4 linked regions of the Homo sapiens genome follow. The protein of the gene in region 2 interacts with the protein of the main gene of each other region in a biochemical or structural test. Each region holds a gene or a part of one and is shown on either strand. Other genes may lie near its edges.

Region 1 (2,977 bases), on a different chromosome or scaffold from region 2:
TCCTGTTAACATGTTTCCTAAATTAAGCCACTAAGTTTTCTTTACTGTGGAAGACATTCATCAAAAGGCCATCAAATATTTTTACAATCAAAAAATGTAGCCCAAGTATAGGAGAAAAAAAAATAGACCTTTTTTTCTTTTTAAAACTGTTGAGGAAAAAAATATAAGGAAGGTAGACAGCAGAAACAGTAGAAAGAAGTAAAACTGAAAATCTTACCAATTTGCTGTAAAGAGATTAGACAGAGAGTGGGCCACAGCAACACCCTCTTCCCCTGGATATCCCTATCTCCCTCACCTTGCCGACCACAGTATGTATTTTTTATCCTGACTCTCTTCTGTTGTTCTTCAGCCATGGGCTGAAGACATTTGGTGTCTTGAACCAAATACTGGTGTAAGAACAGGTGGCGATTTTTTTTTCCAGTGCAATGCAGGCCCGGGACAATGATGAAATGTAGGACATACAACTTATGCCCATTCCAAGGCTTCCAGTTAAGCTTAGCACATAGCAGTACTGCAAGTAGAAATGATTAAATAGATTCATTTTTTTTTTCTCATATTACAGACAGGTATTGCAGCTGGGTTACTGAAAATAAACCCCAGGTCCACCCCAATCCCTCAAACGAGCCACAGCTGTGGTTAACAATGATTCATTTGCATTTTATTATTTCACCAAGAGAAGAAACAGAAGTTGTCTGGCTTTCTTCACACCAACCAATAATTTCGCATTTTAAAGTTTGGGATGTTTTTCATAATGAGCTGAATCAAAAATCTATTTGAAAAATATATATTTATATAAAAAAAAGATTCAGGTTGTTTGCACGTAAAACATCAATTGGTAAGTTTCTTTTGTCTTTGCTTCCATTTTGCTGGAAAAAGTTTGACCAAGCTTGCATGCTAATTTGTCCTTAGTTGCAAGTATTATAGGCAATTTTGTACTTTGCCTAATGAAAGGATAACCCTTCTTCAACACAATCAGAACTCAACAGTGATTCAGAAGCAACATCCTACCCTTAATACTGTCAGTTTCGAGTCATCAACATGAAAATCCTTGATAAGGTTGAGAAGATGTCGCGAGGAATCAATTAATTGATGTGCCTAAGAGTTCAGCAATACTATTTTGCTTTAAGTTTTTTTTTGCACCATTGATTGATTTTTTAAAATCCACGTTTATTTTTCCTGTGTCTGAAGTGTTCTATGTAATGACATTGACTCTCTGAAACTGTCATTTTGAGTCGTTTCACCTTGCAGGATGCTCACACATCTCCCTCTCCACCTTTTTTGCCTTAAATTCATTAAAAGCATTGCTCTGTCATAGATTCATACGCAGGTGCTCTGGCCGTTTGGAGATCATGGGAAAAGCTTGTTTTTTGTATGGCCCAGAGTTCGGCTGTCGTATTGGAAGTGGTGCCGATGCTTCCCCACTCATTGTCACATCCATCTGCTCTATGCCACTTGTTTCCATTGGGTATTCCACAGGTGTCTGAGGATTTGCTGTGCTGGCCGAAGCACCTCTTCCCCAGAAATCCCCAGGAGAAAATTTGACTGGGCTTTAAGACAAGGAAGAGCTATCATTCATTTGCTTAAGGGTCATCTCAACAAGACATATTTCCTTTACGTTTAAAGGGAGTGGGGTAACATGACATTTATTTTCATTTAATTTTATTTTCACGTGGATTAGCACAAAGGCAAAAATTGAACCATCTCTCCCCCACCTAGATTAACTGCTAGAATTTCCTAACTGGTCTCTTTACCTCTACACCTGACCCCCAAAACCCTCAATGAGATATATATACATTTAAATGCGTATTATATATATCATTTTACTCTCCCCTGCTCAAAACAGCTTTCTATTGCATTTAAAATAAAATACTTTTCCAAACCTCTGCCCTTCTCCTCACTCACCACACACTCCAGGAACACTGATTTCCCTTTCACTTCCAGGAAAAGGGCAACTTTTCTCCTCCCTCAGGGTTTTTGCATTTGCTGTTCTTCTGCCTGCAACATTCTTATACCTCCTATTTTTGTAGGGCTGGCTCTTTCCGTTCACTGCTAGATGTTACTACACCAGGGAGGCCTTTCTCTGATCACTGTGAGTAGAAGCCCCCTTGTTTTTCCTCTGCTCTCTACCAGTACATTCTTTTTTTCCCCTTTTAAATTATAGCACTTTGCACTACTTGTAATTATATTTTTGTATATCCTTTGTCTATTGTGACTTTCCCACTAAATTGTAAGCTTCATCAGGACAGGGACAATTCCTGTATTATAGTACTATATAGATACACACACATAACATGCAGTATGTAGTGCTGGTGCTCTTGGTGCACAATAAATGCTGAGTGAATGGATAAAGAGGACATTTGCCAGTATGGCTGCTTACTTTTGGGAGGGAAGGTAAACCATATAACATCATAGATTAGTCAGACTAGTCCTTTGCAATGTAAGATATAGATGCTGTGCTTATGTCAACCAAAGAGAGTATGACAGTCTTTCATTTATATAACTTGGCATAAACTTCTTAAGCAAACACTCTTGTAGGTTGTTTAAAAACAAAAAAAAGTGAAAATAAGAGTGTGAAATACCTGACAGGTGTTCGTGGGCTGCCAATAAATCTTCGAGGTGATCGGATTTTTGGTTCAAAGGAAAACTTTTCTTTCACACTTTCAAGTACAGATGGAGCCACATATGTAAAACCCTGAAAGACAGTAACAGTGGACTACAGAATGGCATTTTGTCATGTATCTCAAGAGAATGGGGTTGTTCAGTCTGACATACCTACACAATGATGCACACCTAAAACCACCAATGTGTACACTCTCCCACGTCCTCAACCTCATTTTTAGACCCGTTAACTTCTTTCCAGCCATTTCGTGAGGCACACACTTCAAGAAAGCAGAATTCCATTGAGCCTGATATGCTAGCAAACAAAATTCTACCCTACTGACAGGAATAGAAAAAAAAACAGGAAAATTCAGGCTCC
Region 2 (2,508 bases):
TCAGCCTCCCCAGTCTCTGGGACTACAGGTGTGCACCACTGCTCCTGGCCATATCTTATTTTTTAAAGGAAAGCCATTACAGATATAATTGAAACCACGTCTGCATCCCTTGCCAATACTGTTCCCTCTCTTCCTCTTTTACTCTCCAGAAGTAGTATCTTAAATTTGATTTTATCATTTTTCGCATGTTTCCTACTTTTTTTTTGAGACGGAGTTTTGCCCTTGTTGCCCAGGCTGGAGTGCAGTGGCGTGATCTTGGCTCACCGCAACCTCCACCTCCTGGGTTCAAACGATTCTCCTGCCTCAGCCTCCCAAGTAGCTGAGAGTACAGGCATGCGCCACCACACCTGGCTAATTTTTGTATTTTTAGTAGAGATGGGGTTTCTCCATGTTGGTCAGGCTGGTCTCAAACTCCTGACCTCAGGTGATCTGCCCACCTCGGCCTCCCAATATTTCCTACTTTTTATAGTATATGTAAAAATATAAGGTATTGTTTCATGTTTTTCATGTTTTTATATTTTTATATATTTTTTTGAAAAATTACATTAACAGCATAAAATTCAAAAGTTATACAGAAGAAACAATAAGAAGTAAATCTTTCGTCCTGTCCTGTGCCCCATCTAGTACCTTAAGACAATCAGTGATAGTAGTTTCTTGGCTGTACCTTCACAAATATTCTAGGTATTTATATTATTTATTTTCCCGTACACAACAACAGCATATTATAGACAACATTCTCTCCTGGCTTTTTTCACTTACTCTTTATCCATATTGATATATAGAGGACTGTCTCATTCTGCTTAACAGCTGCATAGTATTGTGTTTTATGGATATATCATACTTTGTTTAATTTCTATTCTGGTAATAGTCATTTGGGTTGATTACCATCTTTACGCTATGATAACCAAGTATTTCAGTACTTATCTATGTATTCATTACATTGTGTCATAACGAGACCAGTTTATTTGTAGGATATATAATGAGGAGTGGAATTCCTGGGTTAAGGGCATGCATATTTGTAATTTTGACAAACACAAAATTACATAGAGAGGGCTGTACCAACTTATATGTCTACCAGCAATCTGTGCCTGTGTCACGTTTCCTCTTACTCTGGCCATTCCAGTGTTAGCAACTTTTAAAATTTGCGAATCTGATTTTTAAAAATGACATCGTTTTAATTTATGCTTTATCAGTGAGATCAAGCATCTTTTCACATTTGTGTGTCTGTGTGTGAGCTGTCTGGTCATATCCTTTACACACTAATGTATCAAATTACTGGCCTTAAAAAACTGTAGGAATTCTGGGACAAGAATATTAGCCCTTTTTTTGATATGAACTGCAAATATTTTCCCAGTTTTATATTTGTATTGACTATTTGTGTATGTGTGTAATTTGACACTCAGATTTTAAAAATGTTGCTAAATTTGTCAGTCTTTTAAAATAACTCCTGGATTCTCAGTTCTTAGAAAGTTCTTCCTCACTCATAAATCATTAAAAACACATTGCTGTGTTTTTTCCCTCATATTTATGGTTTTTTTTTCAGACAAGTTTTTATTCCATGAGCAACTTATTTTGGTGCAGGTAACGAAGTAGGAATCCAACATTGTTTCCAAATTACCACTCATTCGCTCTTAAGTAATCTATCTTTACTTGCTTGAAAACACAACTTTATCATATTCTAGAATTCTGATATCTTTAAATTGACAAAAACTGTATGTATTTTGTACAATGTGATGTTTTGATATATGTACACATTGCGAAATTGATTACCACAATCAAGCTAGTTACATCCATCACCTCACATATTCATTTCTCCTGGTGAGATCTACTCCTAGCAATTTTCAAGTATACATTAACTAGTCACCCTGCTGCACAACAGGTCTCCGGAACGTACTACTCCTGTTTAACTGAAACTTTGTACCCTTGACCAACATCTCCCCATTTATCCCCTCCCTCCAGTCCATGAAACCACCTTTCTACACTCTGCTTGTGAGTTCAATTTTGTGATTCCATATCCAAGTGAGATCATGGCTTATTTCACTAGCATAGTGTCCTCCAGGTCCATCCATGTTGTTGTAAATCAGTTATTTCCTTCTTTTAAGGTTAATAATATTCCATTGTGTAGATGTACCTTTTTTTTTTTTGAGATGAAGTCTCACTCTTCTCACTCTTGTCGCTCAGGCTGGACTGCAGTGGCGGAATCTCAGCTCACTGAAATCTCCACTTCCTGGGTTCAAGCCATTCTCACTTCAGCCCGAGTAGGTGGGATTACAGGCGCCCTCCAAGATGCCTGGCTAATTTTTGTATCTTTTGTAGAGACGGGGTTTCATCATGTTGGCCAGGCTGGTCAAGAACTTCTGACCTCAAATGATCCACCTGCCTTGGCCTCCCAAAGTGCTGGGATTACAGGCGTGGGCCACCGCGCTCAGCCCTATCTATCTTCTGTTGATGGACACTTAGGTTGATGTCTTGGCGATTGTGAACAATGCTTCAGTGAACGTGGAAGTA
Region 3 (3,500 bases), on a different chromosome or scaffold from region 2:
CAGAACTCAGATATGTGCCCTTGGGCTTCACTGGGGAGGCCCAATGAACTGGGCTTGTGGTACCTGGTTCATCTTTCCAAGGTCAAGAATGTTTCAACTTCAAATACGAGTGTGGGACAAGGGGAAATCCTGAACATAAATGCCACACTGCAATGACTTGCAATTTGTTTTTTCTCAGTTTTTCTCTCAGCAACATTCTGTCTAAAGCACTTTCCCTCTGAATAGTCTACCTCTAACCATCAAAGAGCTGCTAAAGACAAGAATGCATAATTAAGTTAGACTAGGACCTGAAGTGGTCTCAAGTTTGATGCTCTACACCCTTGAAATTCCAGCCCACTAGAAGCCCAAGAAGGTCTCTGCACATCAATTTCACATGCTCCCACAAGAGACCAGATGTCCTCTCTCTGATTTGGGAGGACCCACCTGCCTTGGGCAACTGCTAGCTTTGACCTTTGGGCTGCTATTCTGGAAGCAAGTGAGAGAAGATGGGGTAGTGCAGGTAACAGACTGGTGAGTGGAAAGTATAATAAAAGGAGGGCCACGTGAACTGAACCAACGCACAGCCCTGCCCCTGGAGAGCTTAAAGAAAAGATGCAAGGACTCTACTCACTGCAGTGAATCAACTGTAAGCACAAGTTGGGATGGCAGAACTGAAATGGTTACAGCTAGTCATTCCTATCTATTGCAATGTATTTTCACAAAGGGGTACATAAATCATAAAAAATGTTTCAGACCTCACAAAGCTGTACATAAATCCTTAAAAAAAGTTTCAAACTTCATAAAAATAATATCCTAAGTAACAAATATTCCCTACCCTTAAGTTTTCCAAAGCTAAGTACAACCCCAGTGTGGCTGGGTGCTGACTGTAACACCCAAGGTGGGAGGAAGGGCCAAGCTCTCGCAACTGTCAGCAAAGGTGTGTGAGGGTCAATGGCTGCACCACCAAGAAACAGAGTGGAGACAATTAGAGGAAGCAAGGGCTAAGCAGAAAAGAGTTCACAGGAGACCAGGAGACTGAGGCCAGTGTGACCCTAAGCCAGGCCAAAGAAATGGTGATGCAGGAAAACTAAGGAAGTGCGCCCAAGTGAGGCAAGCAACACCAAAAAGGAACTTTTCTCAAATACACAGATGGTCTCCAACTTATCATGGTCTGACTTGCAATTTTTCAACTTTGTGATGGGTTTATCAGGGCATAACCCCATTATAAACTGAGGAGCCTCTGGACTTAACTATGGTTTGACTTACAATATTTTGACTTTAAGATAGGTTTTTCAGTGTATTTAATGCATTTTTGACTAACAATATTTTCAATTTACGATGGGTTTGTCGGGATGTAACCCTGTTGTAAATCAAGGAGCAACTGTATACGTATGGATGTGTGTGTCTATGTATGTGTGTTTTTTTAAATGCAATAGAATGGGATGTTAAAGGAAAACAGCAGAAAGATTAAACATACAAAAGAAACCCAAAATTTCTCTATTGTAATTATAAGTATTTGCTTCACATCTTATAAGCACTTTTTAAAATACTTCCTAAATTAAGTGCCCCTAAATGATGACTTTTTCAAAAATGCAATACTGAATGTTATTCTGAATCACCTTATTATACTTCTGTCGTTTTACAGAATCTAGTTTCCTGTTGATGTCTCTGCTGGTGGCAGCTTGAGGGCTAAGCTGTTCAATAATTTTATTGATTTGCCTTAGGGATGTCGTACATGACCTGAAAAATAAGATAAATTGTCTATTTTGCACTCTGATAACATTTTTATAGCATAATATAAAGAGAAAAATGCTAAAAACATGTCCCTTTTACTTCTTATTAACTAAAAGATAAAGGAAACTAAACCAGAATACATACCCTTATTGGCCACAAATAAAACTTGTAGGATCATTAGAGGTTTAAGATGACTGCTAGTGTTTTCTTTTATCTAGCTGATTTAGATCAGCTCATTCCCATTTGTAAGCTGCTTCAGTCATTCTACAAGCATTATTTAAGTGCCTACTTTATTCAACACACTATGCTAGAACAATGTGCAATAAGTTGTCCTTTTACATGAAAAAATGCATACATGGGTTTTTTAAGCCCGTTACGGAAGCCTTCCAAAGTCTGGAAGCATCCTAAATATGCTTAAACATTTTTTTATATAAATCACACATCTGCGACAATATTTTTCTTCTACATAAATGGAAGATTCACTTACTACAGCACTAAACTTTGTGGTGCAAAGAAAACAAATCAATTTAAAATAAATTACTCCTAAAATAGACACCATAGAATTGTAGCTTCCAATTTTCAAAACACAAATTCAATCTTCTTGATGATTGTGTAATTTGCTGTTTGTATCCTCTGTGGATTACAGGATAAACAATGCGTATTACTGGCTGAGACACCACATGCCACCAGCCATCTAGCATCACTCTGCATGGAGACCCCACAACTCTCCTCTGTCACCTCTGGAGAAAGAGGACACATTTCCAAGATCAAATGTAAAAGTATCATTACAAAGAGTTGAGGTCCTCAACACTCAGACTATAACCATGAACGAGCACCTGCTCCTGAGGAGGCCAAAAGAACACACCAGGGAATGGTTAGCAGAAAACATGTCTTTGAAGTACCAACAACCACATTCATGACAGCGCCACACTCCACCCTCCCCAGCTATCCTCTGTGACACTGCTCCATCCTCCATCCCGTTCAGCCCTCGCCTTCTTTCTTGCTTACCTGACACTGCCCAGAACACTGCCCAACGGGGGCCAAGCAGCAATGATAAGTGAGCTCAACCCCTCCCACTTCCCCTCTCCTGTCCTCACCTCCTACCCTTGCTCAGGTCTACAGCCTCCCCTTCTTCCCCATTAACGTGCTATGCTCAAAACAGCTCAAGTCTTCTCCCTCTCTAAGACACAAATAAAATCTCCATTTCCAGAGTCAGAACAAGGATGGAAGAAAAGAAAACCGGGGAGTCTTTATTATTTCTAAAAATGCAAATCTGAAAAATTGCCCAAGGACTGAACACTAAGTTTGGGGACAGTAAGCTAGAAAGAAGCTACCGCACAGAGAAAAATGTGAAGGGGGCGCAATGTATTCCTGGCATCTCGAATAGGAAACACCTGAATTTAGGTGCACCTCTCCTGAGATCACTTTGTGCACATGCTGGTGAACAGCCCTTCTCTTCTGGACATTATGCATGCAACTGGCTTTCACGAGCTGGACAGAGACTCTAACTACCATGTACAATGCCACTCCTAAGGGGAAGGGCTGGGACTCAAAGATGAGGTTGAGGACTGCCCTTATTGACTCTGTCCTCCAAATAAAAGGTTCTACACATCTCCTAAACTTCTGGAATACTAGAGCTTTCCATTACCTGAATATCCCTGTCATGTTTTACCACCACTTTGAAAGGAAGAAGATGGGCTGCACTCACGTGAGGTCATCCAGGACCGACCGATACTCCTTCTCCACGTCAACGAGCTGGGAGGCACGGCTGGCCTCATGGATGGCAT
Region 4 (3,500 bases), on a different chromosome or scaffold from region 2:
AGTGAAAACTCACTCCCTCAGGACAGTTCTCTTGGTCAGCCTCGTCCAGCGTTCACTGTGCTGTTTCCATGTCTACCACTTCTGCACCAAATGTGACTTCTTCTTTTTTTTTTGAGACGGAGTCTCGCTCTGTCGCCCAGGCTGGAGTGCAGTGGCGGGATCTCAGCTCAATGCAAGCTCCACCTTCCGGGTTCACGCCATTCTCCTGCCTCAGCCTCCCAAGTAGCTGGGACTACAGGTGCCCGCCACCATGCCCAGCTAATTTTTTGTATTTTTTTAGTAGAGACGGGGTTTCACCATGTCAGCCAGGATGGTCTCCATCTCCTCACCTCATGATCCGCCCACCTCGGCCTCCCAAAGTGCTGGGATTACAGGCGTGAGCCACCACACCTGGCTCAGATGTGACTTCTATTGCCAAATTCTTCTTCATTTCTAGGATGGGACACACTACCACAGCCCTTTTATAAAGTCCTCAACTGACCCAGCCGACTCACCTTTCTCTCCTGGAATGCTCCCTTGCCATCTCCCTTCTCTTCTGTCTTTCCCATTCCCGGCGAGCTTTATCCTGTTCTTCTCGATGCCGTTTCCGACGTTCGTGCTCTCTTTCTTTTTCTTTCACTCTAGCATGCTTCCCTAATGAGAAATAAAGTGTCATGCAAAGAAACCTCACTTCAAAAATTTCACATGAAGCCGGGCACGGAGGCTTATGCCTGTAATCCTAGCACTTTGGGAGGCTGAGGCGGGCGGATCACCTGAGGTCAGGAGTTCAAGGCCATCCTGGCCAACATGGTGAAACCCCGTCTCTACTAAAAATACAAAAATTAGCTGGGCGTGGTGGCAGGCACCTGTAATCCCAGCTACTAAGCGAGGCTGAGGCAGAAGAATTGCTTGAACCCGGGAGGCGGAGGTTGCAGTGAGCCGAGATCACGCCACTGCACTACAGCCTGGGCAAAAAAAAAAAAAAAACCCACGTGAAACTGAAATTAAGACCGGGCGCGGTGGCTCACGCCTGTAATTCCAGCACTCTGGGAGGCCGAGGTGGGCGGATCACAAGGTCAGATCGGGACCATCCTGGCTAACACGGTGAAACCCCATCTCTACTAAAAATACAAAAAATTAGCTGGGTGTGGTGGCGGGCACCTGTAGTCCCAGCTACTCGGGAGGCTGAGGCGGGAGAATAGCGTGAACCCAGGAGATGGAATTTGCAGTGAGCTGAGATTGCGCCACTGTACTCCAGCCTGGGTGACAAGCAAGACTCCGTCCCAAAAAAAAAAAAAAAAGAAATTAAATCAAGAACAGTAAATATTTAAATAAATATTTAAATAATGATGTTAACGTTAAGTAATCCTAATTTTTCTTTTTTTTCTTTTTTTTTTTTGGAGATGGAGTCTTGCTCTGTCGCCCAGGCTGGAGTGCAGTGGCGCAATCTCGGCTCACTGCAAGCTCCGCCTCCCGTGTTCACACCATTCTCCTGCCTCAGCCTCCCGAGTAGCTGGTACTACAGGCGCCTGCCACCACGCCCGGCTAATTTTTTGTCTTTTTAGTAGAGACGGGGTTCCACCATGTTAGCCAGGATGGTCTTGATGTTCTGACCTCGTGATCTGCCGGCCTCGGCCTCCCAAAGTGTGGGGATTACAGTTGTGAGCCACCGCGCCCGGCCTTTTTTTTTTTTTTTTTTTTTTTTAAAGAGACAGGGTCTCGCTATATTGGCCAGGCTGGTCTTGAACTCCCGGACTCAATTGATCCTCCAAAGTGCTGGGATTACAGGCCTGGGCCACTGCACCCAGCCGAATAATCATGATTTTATGTTAAATAAAAAACTTTGAAAATAAAAAACTATCTGCAGTAAGCGTCTAATTATGAAGAAAGAAGAAAAAAGAAAAACAATTCTGCTATCACAGAAGAGCAGAATTGTAATATTCGTCTTTTAAAACTTTTCCATACTGAATAAACTATAATTATCAGTTTTATAATACAAAAATCACTCTTCACAAAGACTACAGAACAAAGCTTTGCTATCAGTGGGCTTCTCCACTGTGCAATGAAGCCACATTAATTAATCAAGTGTATTTATAATCATGACATTTCAATCGGGCTCCAGGTCCAATTTTCCTAACACCCGTAAGAACCTCCTGATGTTGGTACGAGATCAAACTGCTCAAGCCAAACCCATTCTTTGGACTTGAGCAAATACCCATTTTGGGGTGTGTTTTTCTCCTATACTTGTTGAATTCAGGTCATTTTAAATGTAAACAAACTGCTTCCAAACAATATAATGGGGGAGAGAAAACCCCAGAGGAAAAATGGACTAGCCATTCTGAATGGTCTGTGACACACGCACGCTTTCAGCTAGAGTTTGCTCTCTCTGGTTTTCGGTCTGTGATACACGCATGCTTTCAGCTGGAGTTTGCTCTCTGTAGCCCCTCTGAACGGTCTGTGACACACGCATGCTTTCAGCTAGAGTACTCTATAGCCCCTCTGAATGGTCTGTGACACATGCACGCTTTCAGCTAGAGTACTCTCTCTATAGCCCTTCTGAATGGTCTGTGACACACGCATGCTTTCAGCTGGAGTTTGCTCTCTCTGGTTTTCGGTCTGGGACACATGCATGCTTTTAGCTAGAGTTTGCTCTGTATAGCCCTTCTGAACGGTCTGTGACACACGCATGCTTTCAGCTGGAGTTTGCTCTCTATAGCCCCTCTGAATGGTCTGTGACACACGCATGCTTTCAGATAGAGTATTCTCTCTATAGCCCTTCTGAATGGTCTGTAACACACGCACGCTTTCAGCTAGAGTTTGCTCTCTCTGGTTTTTGGTCTGTGACACACGCATGCTTTTAGCTAGAGTTTGCTCTGTATAGCCCTTCTGAATGGTCTGTGACACATGCATGCTTTCAGCTAGAGTTTGCTCTCTCTGGTTTTTAGTCTGTGACACACACATGCTTTTAGCTAGAGTTTGCTCTGTATAGCCCTTCTGAATGGTCTGTGACACACGCGTGCTTTCAGCTAGAGTTTGCTCTCTCTGGTTTTTGGTCTGTGACACACGCATGCTTTTAGTTAGTTTGCTCTCATAGCCCTTCTGAACGGTCTGTGACACATGCATGCTTTCAGCTATTCTCTCTATAGCCATTCTGAATGGTCTGTGACACACGCACGCTTTCAGCTAGAGTTTGCTCTTTCTGGTTTTCGGTCTGTGACACACGCATGCTTTCAGCTAGAGTTTGCTCTCTCTGGTTTTCGGTCTGTGACGCACGCATGCTTTTAGCTAGAGTATTCTCTCTATAGCCATTCTGAACGGTCTGTGACACACGTATGCTTTCAGCTAGAGTTTGCTTTCTCTGGTTTTTCAGTGGTGCTCTGGGGAAGGCAGAAGAGTAGGAACAGGAAAGAAACCACACTTGAACATGATGTCAAAGAAAGTAAATGCTTCTGTACCCCCTTCTGCTGAATGGCTACGATGCCTACGTTTCTCTTTTCTCTTTTCATCTTTTCTGTGATGAG

What was found.
Region 1: of the proteins of EIF3F (region 2) and RPS6KB1, one has a biochemical effect on the other in vitro, tested with the Homo sapiens proteins (one study listed by BioGRID).
Region 3: the proteins of EIF3F (region 2) and ERCC6 form a complex in vitro, tested with the Homo sapiens proteins (one large-scale study listed by BioGRID).
Region 4: of the proteins of EIF3F (region 2) and CDK11B, one has a biochemical effect on the other in vitro, tested with the Homo sapiens proteins (one study listed by BioGRID and IntAct).

What each region holds. Positions count from the first base shown.
Region 1 is NC_000017.11:59,945,121-59,948,097, reverse strand, and holds part of RPS6KB1 (ribosomal protein S6 kinase beta-1), read right to left. Parts: intron 2,693-2,977; coding exon 2,580-2,692; intron 1,548-2,579; coding exon 1,310-1,547; 3' UTR 512-1,309; coding exon of another isoform or gene 496-511; 3' UTR 1-495. UniProt on the Homo sapiens protein: Serine/threonine-protein kinase that acts downstream of mTOR signaling in response to growth factors and nutrients to promote cell proliferation, cell growth and cell cycle progression.
Region 2 is NC_000011.10:7,999,845-8,002,352, reverse strand, and holds the end of EIF3F (eukaryotic translation initiation factor 3 subunit F), read right to left. Parts: 3' UTR 501-2,508; downstream 1-500. UniProt on the Homo sapiens protein: Component of the eukaryotic translation initiation factor 3 (eIF-3) complex, which is required for several steps in the initiation of protein synthesis.
Region 3 is NC_000010.11:49,529,122-49,532,621, forward strand, and holds part of ERCC6 (DNA excision repair protein ERCC-6), read right to left. Parts: coding exon 3,422-3,500; intron 1,720-3,421; coding exon 1,599-1,719; intron 1-1,598. UniProt on the Homo sapiens protein: Involved in repair of DNA damage following UV irradiation, acting either in the absence of ERCC6 or synergistically with ERCC6. Involved in the regulation of gene expression.
Region 4 is NC_000001.11:1,649,005-1,652,504, forward strand, and holds part of CDK11B (cyclin-dependent kinase 11B), read right to left. Parts: coding exon 3,435-3,500; intron 634-3,434; coding exon 495-633; intron 1-494. UniProt on the Homo sapiens protein: Plays multiple roles in cell cycle progression, cytokinesis and apoptosis. Involved in pre-mRNA splicing in a kinase activity-dependent manner. Isoform 7 may act as a negative regulator of normal cell cycle progression.